Regions from separate parts of the Homo sapiens genome. Here region 2 is linked to region 1. The links come from fine-mapping of genetic effects on gene expression. A gene starts in region 1. The other region holds a variant in brackets. All regions are shown on one strand. Distances are between the middles of the regions.

Region 1 (5,325 bases):
CAGCACCCCCAATCCTAGAGCTTCCTCTCCCCACCTCCTCGTCCAGTGACAGCACGGGCTCTTGTCCCTCTTCCTAGTCACCCCGGCCCGGAGCTCACCAGGTAGTTCTCATCCTGGAAGGCGAAGTGCAGCTGCGTGATCCACCGCCGGTCCCCATTCACCAACACGTCCCTCTCCTCACGGAAGCACGACACCTGCAGGGCACCCGGAGGAGCTGCAGCCGGAGACGGGGCGCGGATCCTCAAAGCCCCCCACGTCCGCCCAGCCCCTCACCTCGCCCCTCTTCAGCATGTCCCACTTGTTCATGATCTTCATGGCATACACCTGGCCCGTCTGCTTCATCTTCACTACCGCTACCTGAGGTCGAGATAGTGAGACAGAGTGGAGACGGCGGGAAAACAAAAGGGCTCGCCCAGACCCAACTCCACCCGCTTCTGCACCCAGCCGTGGCCCCGCCCCACCTGCCACACCACGCCCATTGGTCCCAAGCCCCGCCTCCAGCCCAGCCCTAGGTTCTAAGGCTCGGTCATTCATCAATTTCTAAGGCCCCGCCCCAACCCCTATGCCCCGCCCACCACGAGTCAAGTCAGGCTCCCGCCCGGTTCGGCTTACCTCGCTGAACGCCCCGCGTCCGATCACCTTCAGAATCTCGAAGTCGTCCCTCTGCAGTCGGACCTCCTTAAGCCTCACCACGATGGGCTCCGCTGGGGGGGTGGTGGGGGAAAAGAACCGAGGGTCACCAGAAAGGGCACTGGAGACAAGGGGGAAAGCCCCACCCTCTGTCTGTCTCCCCTTCTCTCTGCCTCTCAGCTTCACCCTAGGACTGTCTGCTTCCCAGGGGCTTCCCCACATAAACACCGTGTAAGGTTCTGGGGGCCAAAAATGCCCTCCCATAGAGGTGAGATGCCTGAGAAGCCCTTTGCGGGACAGGGCATTGGCCCAGAGGGCTCCAAGGGTGTGCAGGATGGTTAGGGTGGGGTAACGGAGTCTGCAGAAGGACAGACCCTAAAGAACAAGGGGAGAAGGAAATAAGACCCAGTTCTTCCACCTTCCACCCTGACTCCAGGTGACAGTTCAGGTGCAGCCAGGGCCCCACCCCCACGTTCTCATGTAGAATGTCCTGGGTAACGGCCCAGACGTGGGGTTGTATCCAGTACCTCTAGATTCAGATGCAGGTGGTTCTTGAACCACACTTTGGAAAACCCTGGATTTGGGGCTGGGGGAAGGAACAGGACAGGGAGACAAAGGTAGCATGGTCACATATCCCAGACTCAAGTGCTCCGGTCCAGCCCATCTCTCAGTCCTCCAGGAGGAGTGCTTTAGTCCTACCCCTTATTTACAGATGACAATCAGGCCTCTCAGAAGTCAAGGTCCTATGACTAGGAATGTTAAACTGGGCAGCCTGGGTGGGGGACCAGCTGGGGTGGAGGCTTGTGGCTCAGGGACTGTGGGGACAGGGAGGCCTGGACTCCCGGGGGTGGAAGAAGTGGAGGCAGGATGGAGAGAGGGATGGGTATGGGAGGGGAGGGAAGGAGAGGAGACAGTGGGTTCTGGAGGAAAGAGAGGGGTTCCGGGGGGTTCCGGGAGAGTGGGCCAGCAGGGACGAACCAGCCAGGGCTGAGGACGGGGGAGGGAGGAGAGAGCCAAGACATTGAGCCCTTTTAAGGCAGCAGGAACCCTGGCCCCCTCCCCCGCCCCAGGCCTGGCAGGGGAGGGGCCGCGAGATGCAGCTCGGGCCACAAAAGGAGTGCTCCTCCCGGGAGCGCCAGACCCCTACCCCACCCGGTCTCAGTTTACCCTGCCAACCCAACTTCATCCTCTACTAAAGGGAGGCCAGGAGAGTCATTAGGGGCTGTGGGAGGTTGGGAGAAGGTTTTTCCAGAGGCTGAATGGCCTGGCCCTTCTTGGCCTCCACCTTCCCATCTGTGAAATGGGAGGAGGAGGGAAAGGAACCAGGCCTGGGTCAGAAAGAGATGGACACAAGAGGAAGCAGGGGAAGGCGGAGAAACAGGAAACAAGTGTCACACACAGTTTGTTACACACAGGCCAAAAACCAAACACCAGTCACTGAGGGCCAGACATATGAGGGCCAGAGGGGCAGGGTGCTGGGAATGAAAGAAACCAGTGACCAGTGAGCCCGAGTCCTGGGCTTGGGGAGGAGGTGGGCAGACAAGGCAGCTGGCAGAAGCGGAAGCATCCTCCTTCCAGCCCTGGCCCCAGGCCCTGGAAAGCCCTTGCAAGAAGGGGTTTTGTGGGACAGCTGGAAGGTTGGAGGCCCTGGGCCAGGAGAACTAAAGGACGCAGGGACCCGGGGTGGCGGGAATGGTGGCTGACCCACACGGCTCATAGGAACCGAGACTTTGGGGCTGGGGGTGGGGGTGGGTGCAGAACCTACAAAAGAAGGAGACACACCCAGAAGAACCCAAAGTTGTCCCTCCTGGATCGCAGAGGAGGGGGCACTGGTGGCGCCTGTCTGCAAAGCTGGTTCTCCCACAGGGCCCGCGTGAGTCACCGCCCTCCCAGTGCCTGGGCACCTGTTGGGGCAGCTGGAGAGGCTGGCGCCGAACACCTGCCTGTCGGCTGCGCCCCTGGCAGCTGCCCCATGCTGGCCCTCCTGGCTTGCCCCAGGCCACAGGAAACCAGGGGAGAGGGCCATAGAGCCCACTTTTGGGGGGAGGGTCCTAGGAGAGGGAGCTCCCAGCATGACCCTGACCCTGACCCTGAGGCGGGGTGCAGAGAGGCCATGGGAGGCTGTTGGCAGCCTAGCCTGCTGTGACTCCTAAGCCATGGCTCTGAGTCACAGCCACCCTAGCCTCTGCTGACCTTACTCTGCCCCTCCAGAGTGGTGGCATAGGACAGAGAAATGTTGCCCCAGGGCCCAGGTCCACACTCTGAGCCCCAGGATGGGAGGATCTCCCCATGCCCATCCTGCCATCCTGCCCCCCCAACAGCCAGGCCTCTGTGCCCAGACCTGTCTCCTGCCCCACCCCCACCCCATCTGCAGGAGCCCCGAGGGTAGGCACTCACCCCACTGCAAGAAGTCGGCCACGTACTTGTCCTGGGCCAGTTCGGAGGCGCCCAGCTCCTGGTGGACGCCCAGGAGAAGGTCGAGCAGGGGCTCCAGCCCCAGGAAGCCCGGGTCCAACACCAGCTGCTGGAGCCGCCTCAGCCGCACCTCGGCTGACATGTTGGACAGGCAGCACCATGGCCCCTCCCCGGGCCGGGGGCTCGGGGTCCTCCTGTCACAGGGCCTGGCAGCCCCTGTCCAGGCCCTGGAGCCCTGGCTGCATGTCTGCCTGTCCCTGGCTGTCCCCTGGGCCTCTCTGGCCACTTCTCTCTGCGGCCGGCCGAGGCCTCCTCCCCTTCTCCCCACCCCTTGGTCCAGCCCCCCTCCCGCCTCCCAGCCTTAACCCCTCACAAGCCAGCCCCCCAAGCTCCCTCCTTCCAGGGCCCTTCAGAACCCTTCAGTGCTAGAGTAGGGGGAATGCATGGAGAATCTCAGCTGTCACACTGTCACCCCAATAAAAAGGTAGAGCACAGAGGAAGCCACAGGTGTGATGAATTTCAAGAAGAACCTGCCCATTGCTGAAACAGGGCCAATTGAGGCTGAGTGACCCAGTAGCAACCACCCCCTTGCTCCCGACAAGCTCCAGAACTGGGGGCTAGGGGGTGAGGGCTGGGGGTTGGGGCTGGGTGGGAGAAAGGGGTTGAGGCCTGGGAAGGGGACGGGAGGCCAGGGCAGCTTCTTGGGTGACTCAGAGATGGATTCCGACTCGGACAGTTAAATTTAGCCCTCAGGCTCTCTGCTTTATACCAGCTTTTTTTTTTTTTTTTTTTTTTTTTCCCAGGAGGTGGGGAAGGGGTGGTGAGGACAGGACCAGGAGGGGGCACCCTCAGAGCCTGAACAGGGGTGACCTGCTGCCCAAAGGCTGGGGGAGGAAAGTGGTGGAGCCAAGCCCTCCCTGGGCAAACGAGACCCCAAAATAGCTCCTTGGCCCCTGGCCGGGGAGCCACATTCCTGCCCAGGCTGGGATTAGAAACAGAAACATTTCGGGGGGTGGAGGGTGGCGCGGGAAGACACACTCCCTGCGGCTCCGAGAGCCAAGAGGAATCTGAGCTCTTCTTTCCAGGGTGGACGGTTCTCCAGAGTGGAAGTCGGGGCCTCCAACCGGCCTGGGGTGCCTGGGCCTTGAGAGGGCCAGGCCTGAGAAACTAGGAGGCAAGGACCGAGGAGTCCCAGCTGGGCAGGGCCTGGGAAACGTGGTCCTGGGCAGTTCTGATAATTTAAAAAACACCGAGGACTTTGATGAGGGGCCCTGGCTGCGGGCAGGATGCTCTTCTCCCCAAGAGGGTCCTGCTCCAGCCGCTGGTGTGGGTCACCAGTTGTGTGACTCGCAGGTCCGTTCCCTCCCTGGGCTCCGGCTTTTCCTGCTATGAAAAGGGGTGGGAGGCGCTGGGCTGGGAGCAGGCCTGCACTCCTCCTCTGGGGAAAGCGGACTGCCTAGAACCACAGAGTACACACACAGGTCCTCTACATCATCTCCTCCGAAGGGGACAGACCCGCTGAGAAAACAGGGAACTTTAGTATAAATAAGAGGTCCTGCGGGACAGGGAGGAACCTGAGGGGCTTCCATAATTTAACACTCTTCAAAAGCACAGACAATAGCAAGGGCAGCTGGGGTGGGGGCCGGGCGAGGGCTGGACCACCCCCGGCCCTGCCCACTCAACTGAGGGGCACACTGCAGACCTGGGGCTCTTGTGGCAGGGGCGGGGAGTCTCTCCCCAGGAGTGACCAGTCACATGCTGGGGACAGGGATGAGGGTAACACTGATGTTTCAGAGGAAGAGGTCATTGTACTTGGCAGTGGGTGGGGGACAAGGCTGAGGCCACAAGGGCTATTACATCGCCCGTGTCCGGGCCAGTCTGGGGGGCCCCCAAATTTTGTGCAGGTGGGGGGACTGGAGCAGTCCATCCATCATGGTTAGTCTTGTTAATACGTTGATCTGTGAGGTCAGCAGGGAGGGTTATGGCTAGGAGGCTGGGGGCATGGGGTTGGGGGGGCCCGATATCCATGGCTTCACACCACTGTGCCACTCGGGGAGTTGCCTGGTTGGGAGGAGATGCCCTGGGGAAGATGAGAGGGAGAGATGGGAGGGGTTAGAGACCACCTGGGCTTCAGCCAGTGTCAAGGGGAGGGAGCCAGCCCAGAGTCCCCAAAGCTGCTGCCACCCTGGCCTTGCCCTTGGGTCCGCCCTAGACCCCCCAGAGGCCACTGCTCTAGGCTGGGAACTTGCATCTTAGCTAGCTTCCTGTCCTGGCAGTCAG
Region 2 (5,360 bases), 27 kb before region 1:
GGTCTTAAACCCCTGGGCTTAAGCAATTCTCCCGCCTTGGCCTCCCAAAGTGCTGGGATTATAGGAGTGGGCCACCAAGCCTGACTTGTTTCTATGTATTAACTCACATTTAATCGTCAGGACAAATACCGAAGGGAAAAGCTAATGTGGTCCTGTTTTGCAGGTGATGGAACTGAAGCCCAGAGAGGTTAAGGTCACAGAGATGAGCCTGAGTCAGGGCCTGGCTCAGAGCCCACACACATCATCTCCATGCCACGCAGACCTCCAATCACACCCAATGACTTGCCTGTCCCCAGACACCCCGCGCGTGTCTTCTCATGCCTGCAAGCTCTTACTCAGATAGTTTCTTCTTCTTTTTTTTTTTTTTTTTTTCTGAGGCGGAGTCTCGCTCTTTTCGCCCAGGCTGGAGTGAAGTGGCGAAATTTCGGATCACTGCAAGCTCCACCCCCTGGGTTCAAGCGATTCTCCTGCCTCAGCCTCCCAAGTAACTGGGATTACAGGCACCCGCCACCACACCCAGCTAATTTTTGTCCCTGACATGTAGTGTTGAGGACTGGTCATGAAGTGAGAGACTGGAGTCAGGGAGATGAGGAAAGACACTGTTCGGAGTGATCTAGACGGGACAATTAGGCCCAAGCTAGCGCTGTAGATGAGAATGTGGATAGAAGTGAGTAAACCTAGAAGATGTTAATGAGGAAGAATCGAGAGGCCAGAGGGAAAGGCCCCAGTGACCTTGAGGGGGTCGGCTAGGAGACCCTCACTGTGTTGAGGAAGGCGGGAGGAGGTACTGGTGTGGGCGGGGAGAGGGTGAAGCATCCTCAAGGTGCCCAGTCTGGGGAAGTGTTGATTCCATTCTCCCACTGAGCCAAGGCCCAAAACAGCCCTGAAGAAACCTGAGTTCTTGCCCTCTACTTTCACAGTCCTGACTGAGCGGCCTTGGATAAGCCCTCAGTTTCCACACTGTAAAGTCAGCCTGGGGGCCCACCCTGACCCGGGACTGAGGAGCATTGTCTGGAAGGCAGGAACTGCAGTTGGATGCAGATGGGGTGGGGGATCTGAGCTGTTTCCCTCTCCATCCCTGCAGGGCTGGGTCAGAAACCAGCCTGGGGCCCAGCCAGGCGGAGGAGACACTCTACCCCCTCCAGCTCCCCAAGCTCTCAGAAGTCCTGTCTCCAGGGGGCGTGCCAGAAGCCTCGGAAGAAGAAGCTGACCCAGGCATCAGGTACAAGCTGTCACTGGAGGCAGAACTAGAAGCCCAGGTCACCCAGGAGCAGGGCTCCTTCTCCAGGGATGTCCTTACTCTGGGGGCCTTCTCAGCACCCTGTGCCGGGGTTCAACTCCCAGCTCCTCCTTGTATTAGCACTGAGGCCTCACACCCGGAAACTTGGGGTTCACTGGTCTATGGCAGAACCTGGGCATCAGTATTTTTTTTTTGAGAGAGACTCTCACTCTGTCCACCAGGCTGGAGTACAGTGACACAGCTCACTGCCACCTCTGCCTCCCAGGTTGAAACGATTCTCCTGCCTCAGCCTCATGAGTAGCTGGGATTACAGGCATGTGCCACCATGCTCAGCTAATTTTTGTATTTTTAGTAGAGACAGGGTTTCGCCATGTTGGCCAGGCTGGTCTTGAACTCCTGACCTCAAGTAATCTGCCTGCCTCGGCCTCCCAAAGCGCTGGGATTACAAGCATGAGCCACTGCGCCTGGCCAGTGTTTTTTAAAGGTCGCAAGATGATTCTGACAGGTGGACAGGGGTTGAACAAAGAGGCCTGTGATTGAGGATCTGGGCATTCCCATACCAGGCCAGGCATAGCTTTGACACTGACAAGGATGTTTCCCACCTGAACCCTATTCTGGTGACAGGCAGGTGACTCCCAGGCCCCTCTGACACCTGAACCTCTGCTCCCCCAGAAAGCCAGACTCGGACCCCGAAGCCTCGCCGCTCTCTGGCCCTGAACAAGCCTGAGAAGCTGGTGGCCCCATCCCCAGACCAGAAAGGAAGTGGCACAGGGGGGACCACTACCCCTCCAAGGTGCCCTGACTCCTGCGGTCACCCGAGGCCTGCATCATCCTCACCTCCAGGTGACAGAAAAGGAGGACAGTCCCAGCTGACGCTGTTGGATCTGGCCGAGGACACCATCCACTGTGACATCTCAAGTGGGTCTCTTTCCTCACTCTGAACTTAGTCTTTCAGTAAG[A/G]TGCCACTCTGGGGGCACCTGCTGTGTCCCAGACACAGTACCCGTAGTGGGGGCTGCAGCAGTGAATAGGAAACACCGCCTCTTACTTCTCAAGCTTGTGGCCTTGCTCTGGTGGTCTTCATCTCAGGCTGTGTCGTGGCTGTAATGGGGGGATGAGATCAGCGTCATTGTCTTGTGTGGGCTTCCCATCACAGAACCAGGGAGGAGGGCAGGGCCTCCGCCTCAGGCCTCACTTGGCTCTCCCATGCCCCAGTCACTGCACTGGTTTGGAAAACGTGTGGTGATGCTTTCAAGCAGAGAGCTAGGCCAGAGGGAGGGAGGTCGGAGCTCGAGGCTTTGAGGCCTCAAGTCATCTCGTTCCTCTATTTGTTCATTCAGCCTTTTCTTTTTTTTTTTTTTTTTGAGATGGAGTCTTGCTCTGTCGCCCAGGCTGGAGTGCAGTGGTACAATCTCGGCTCACTGCAACCTCTGCCTCCTGGATTCAAGCGACTCTCCTGCCTCAGTCTCACGAGTAGCTGGGATTACAGGCGCGCACCACCACGCCCAGCTAATTTTTGTATTTTTAGTACAAACAGGGTTTTGCCATATTGACCAGGCTGGTCTTGAACTCCTGATCTCAGGTGATCGCCCACCTTGGCCTCCCAAAGTGCTGGGATTACAGGTGTGAGGCACTGTGCCGGGCCCATTAGAGTTTTTTGTTTGTTTTGAGACAAAGTCTTGCTCTGTCGCCCATGCTGGAGTGCAGTGGTGCACTCTCGGCTACTGCAACCTCTACCTCCCAGGTTCAAACAATTCTCTGCCTCAGCCTCCTGAGTAGCTGGGACAGGCGCCCGCACCCATGCCCGGCTAATTTTTGTATTTTTAGTAGAGACGGGGTTTCACCGTGTTGGCCAGGCTGGTCTTGAACTCCTGACCTCGTGATCCACCGCCTCAGCCTCCCAAAGTGCAGGGGTTACAGGTATGAGCCACGGTGCCCAGCCCCCATTACAGCTTCTGATAGGGATGTGGGATTCAAAAAACCCAGGGGTGATTTGGGGCACCCCTCAGCCTCACACCAACGTGACACCCTGCATCCTGAGGTTTGGGCTAGGATTGGGGAGTGAGAGGGTGTGTGGCAGAAGCTGGCACCCCTTTGTCCCCTGCTTCTGGGCTTCCTGGAATTTGGTCCAGTCCCCAGGCATGGTCATCCTGATCTGCCCCTTAGGCTGCTGGTGCCAGGGCAGTGTCCAGGATGACGCACCTTTCCCTGCGCTCCTGGCTCAGGAAGATGTGGCGAGGATCCATTTTCTCAACAAGACCCAGCCCCATCCCAGGTAAGGGCGTCCCCAGGGCACTGAGTGAGTGGTGCTGAGGGGTTTGGTCTGGCGTGGGTGAGGGGTAGTGGGAAGACAGGCCAAGTCACGTCCTCTGCGGGTGCCCCTTGAGCACCAATGGAGGCCCAGCTTTGTGTCTGCCATTGTGAGCTCGCAGGAAAGCCTGACTTCCCATTTCCCAGACATGGTCACAGCTTCCTCACCAGTCTCTTTGCCTCACCTGTTGCCCCTCCATCCCATCCTCATGTGACCACATGGCTTTTCCAACACAGAGACGTTGACCACGGAGTTTGTGGCTTAAAGCCCTTCCTCAGGCCTGCAGCATAGAGTCCAATATTTTTGTTTGTTTGTTTGTTTGAGACAGGGTCTCACTCTGTCGCCCAGGCCAGAGAGCAGTGGCACAATCATAGGTCACTGCCGCCTCAACCTTCAGGGCTCAAGCAGTCCTCCTGCCTCAGCTTCCTGAGTAGCTGGGACCACAGGTGCACACCACCACACCCAGCTAATTTTTTTATGTTTATTTTTTGTAGAAATGAGGTCCCCCTATGTTGCCTAGGCTGGTCTTGAACTCGTAGGCTCAAGCAATCCTCCCACCTCAGCCTCCCAGAGTGCTGGGATTATAGGTATGGGCCACTGCACCCGGCCCGGATATTTCACCTGGCCTTTGAGACCTTCAGTGGCCCCCAACTCACCTCGTCAGCCCTCTCTCCTGCCCTTCACCCATGACTCTTATACTTCACACTGCCACACATTTGCCATTCCCCAGAAGCCCTGCGCCAGCCCCTCTGAGCTTCTCACATTCCAGTACTTCTTCCTGGATAGCCTGCTTCCCTGTGCCCCTGGAAAACTGCCCATCCCTCAGGCTGAGCCCACTGCTCTCCACTGGCTCATCATCCTCCAGCGCCCTCGGTCACAGCACTGCTTACGGGCTGGGCTATCCTCATGAGACTGTAAGCTCCCTGAGGATGGGAGCCTCGACTGACTGAGCTTTACACCCCCAGCACTCCCCCAGGGGCCAGTGCAGAGTGCCAAAGGGGCCCCATAGCAGTTTCTAGCCCAGAGTCTGTGAGTCTGACTCTGAAACTCCACCTCTTGCAGGCAGAAGCTGGTGTTCTATGATTCCAGCGAGGATGTGGACAAAGGGTCCCTAGACGCTGACCCTTGGCTCCCTGCCTGGACCCCAGAGAACAGCCCCCAAGGTGACTGCAACTCTGTCTCTCCTCCTTGTAGGCTGGTGTGGGCCTTCCCATACTTTCAGTCTGAGGATGTCTATGGAAGAGAGGAGGCGGGAAAGGGAATGGAGATCCCCTAAGCACAGGGAAGGCAAACACACAGTGCACCTGCCAGCTCTCCGCCACCGCTGCCACGGAGGCTTGACAATCAATCACCACTCTTTCCTTGAGCCCAGACATGGCCTCAGAATCATTCTGGGTCTTTTTGGTTTGTTTGTTTTCTTTTTTGAGATAGGGTTTCACTCTGTCGTCCAAGCTGGAGTACAGTGGCGCAGTCTCAGCTCACTTCAACCTCTGTCTGCTGGGTTCAAGTGATTCTCCTGCCTCAGCCTCCCGAGTAGCTGGGATTACAGGTGCCCACCACCATGCCCAGCTAATTTCTGTATTTTTAGTAGAGATGGGGTTTCACCATGTTGGCCAGGCTGGTCTCAAACTCCTGACCTACGGTGATCTGCCCGCCTCAGCCTCCCAAAGTGTTGGGATTACAGGCATGAACCACCCCTCCGAACTCTTTTTGTGTTTTTGTTTTGTTTTTTCTTTTGAGACAAGTTCTCGCCCTGAGGCTGGAGTGCAGTGGCGCAATCACAGCTCACTGAGGCCTCCAATTCCTGGACTC

What was found.
Region 2: its variant is fine-mapped to the expression of DMPK in whole blood (INTERVAL, PIP 0.93).

What each region holds. Positions count from the first base shown.
Region 1 is chr19:45,779,166-45,784,490 of GRCh38, forward strand. It overlaps DMPK (DM1 protein kinase), which reads right to left and starts at 3,325. Exons shown (of 15, transcript NM_004409.5): 1 at 3,028-3,325; 2 at 613-704; 3 at 274-357; 4 at 99-194. The coding sequence starts at 3,187. It overlaps DMWD (DM1 locus, WD repeat containing), which reads right to left. Exons shown (of 5, transcript NM_004943.2): 5 at 3,782-5,125. The coding sequence ends at 5,078. RefSeq lists a silencer at 387-556.
Region 2 is chr19:45,752,567-45,757,926 of GRCh38, forward strand. It overlaps MEIOSIN (meiosis initiator), which reads left to right. Exons shown (of 15, transcript NM_001310124.2): 6 at 1,085-1,222; 7 at 1,913-2,158; 8 at 3,404-3,512; 9 at 4,611-4,711. Among named protein-coding and RNA genes, the nearest start is that of DM1-AS, 13 kb to the right of the region's middle. The variant A/G (reference allele first, on the strand shown) is at 2,200.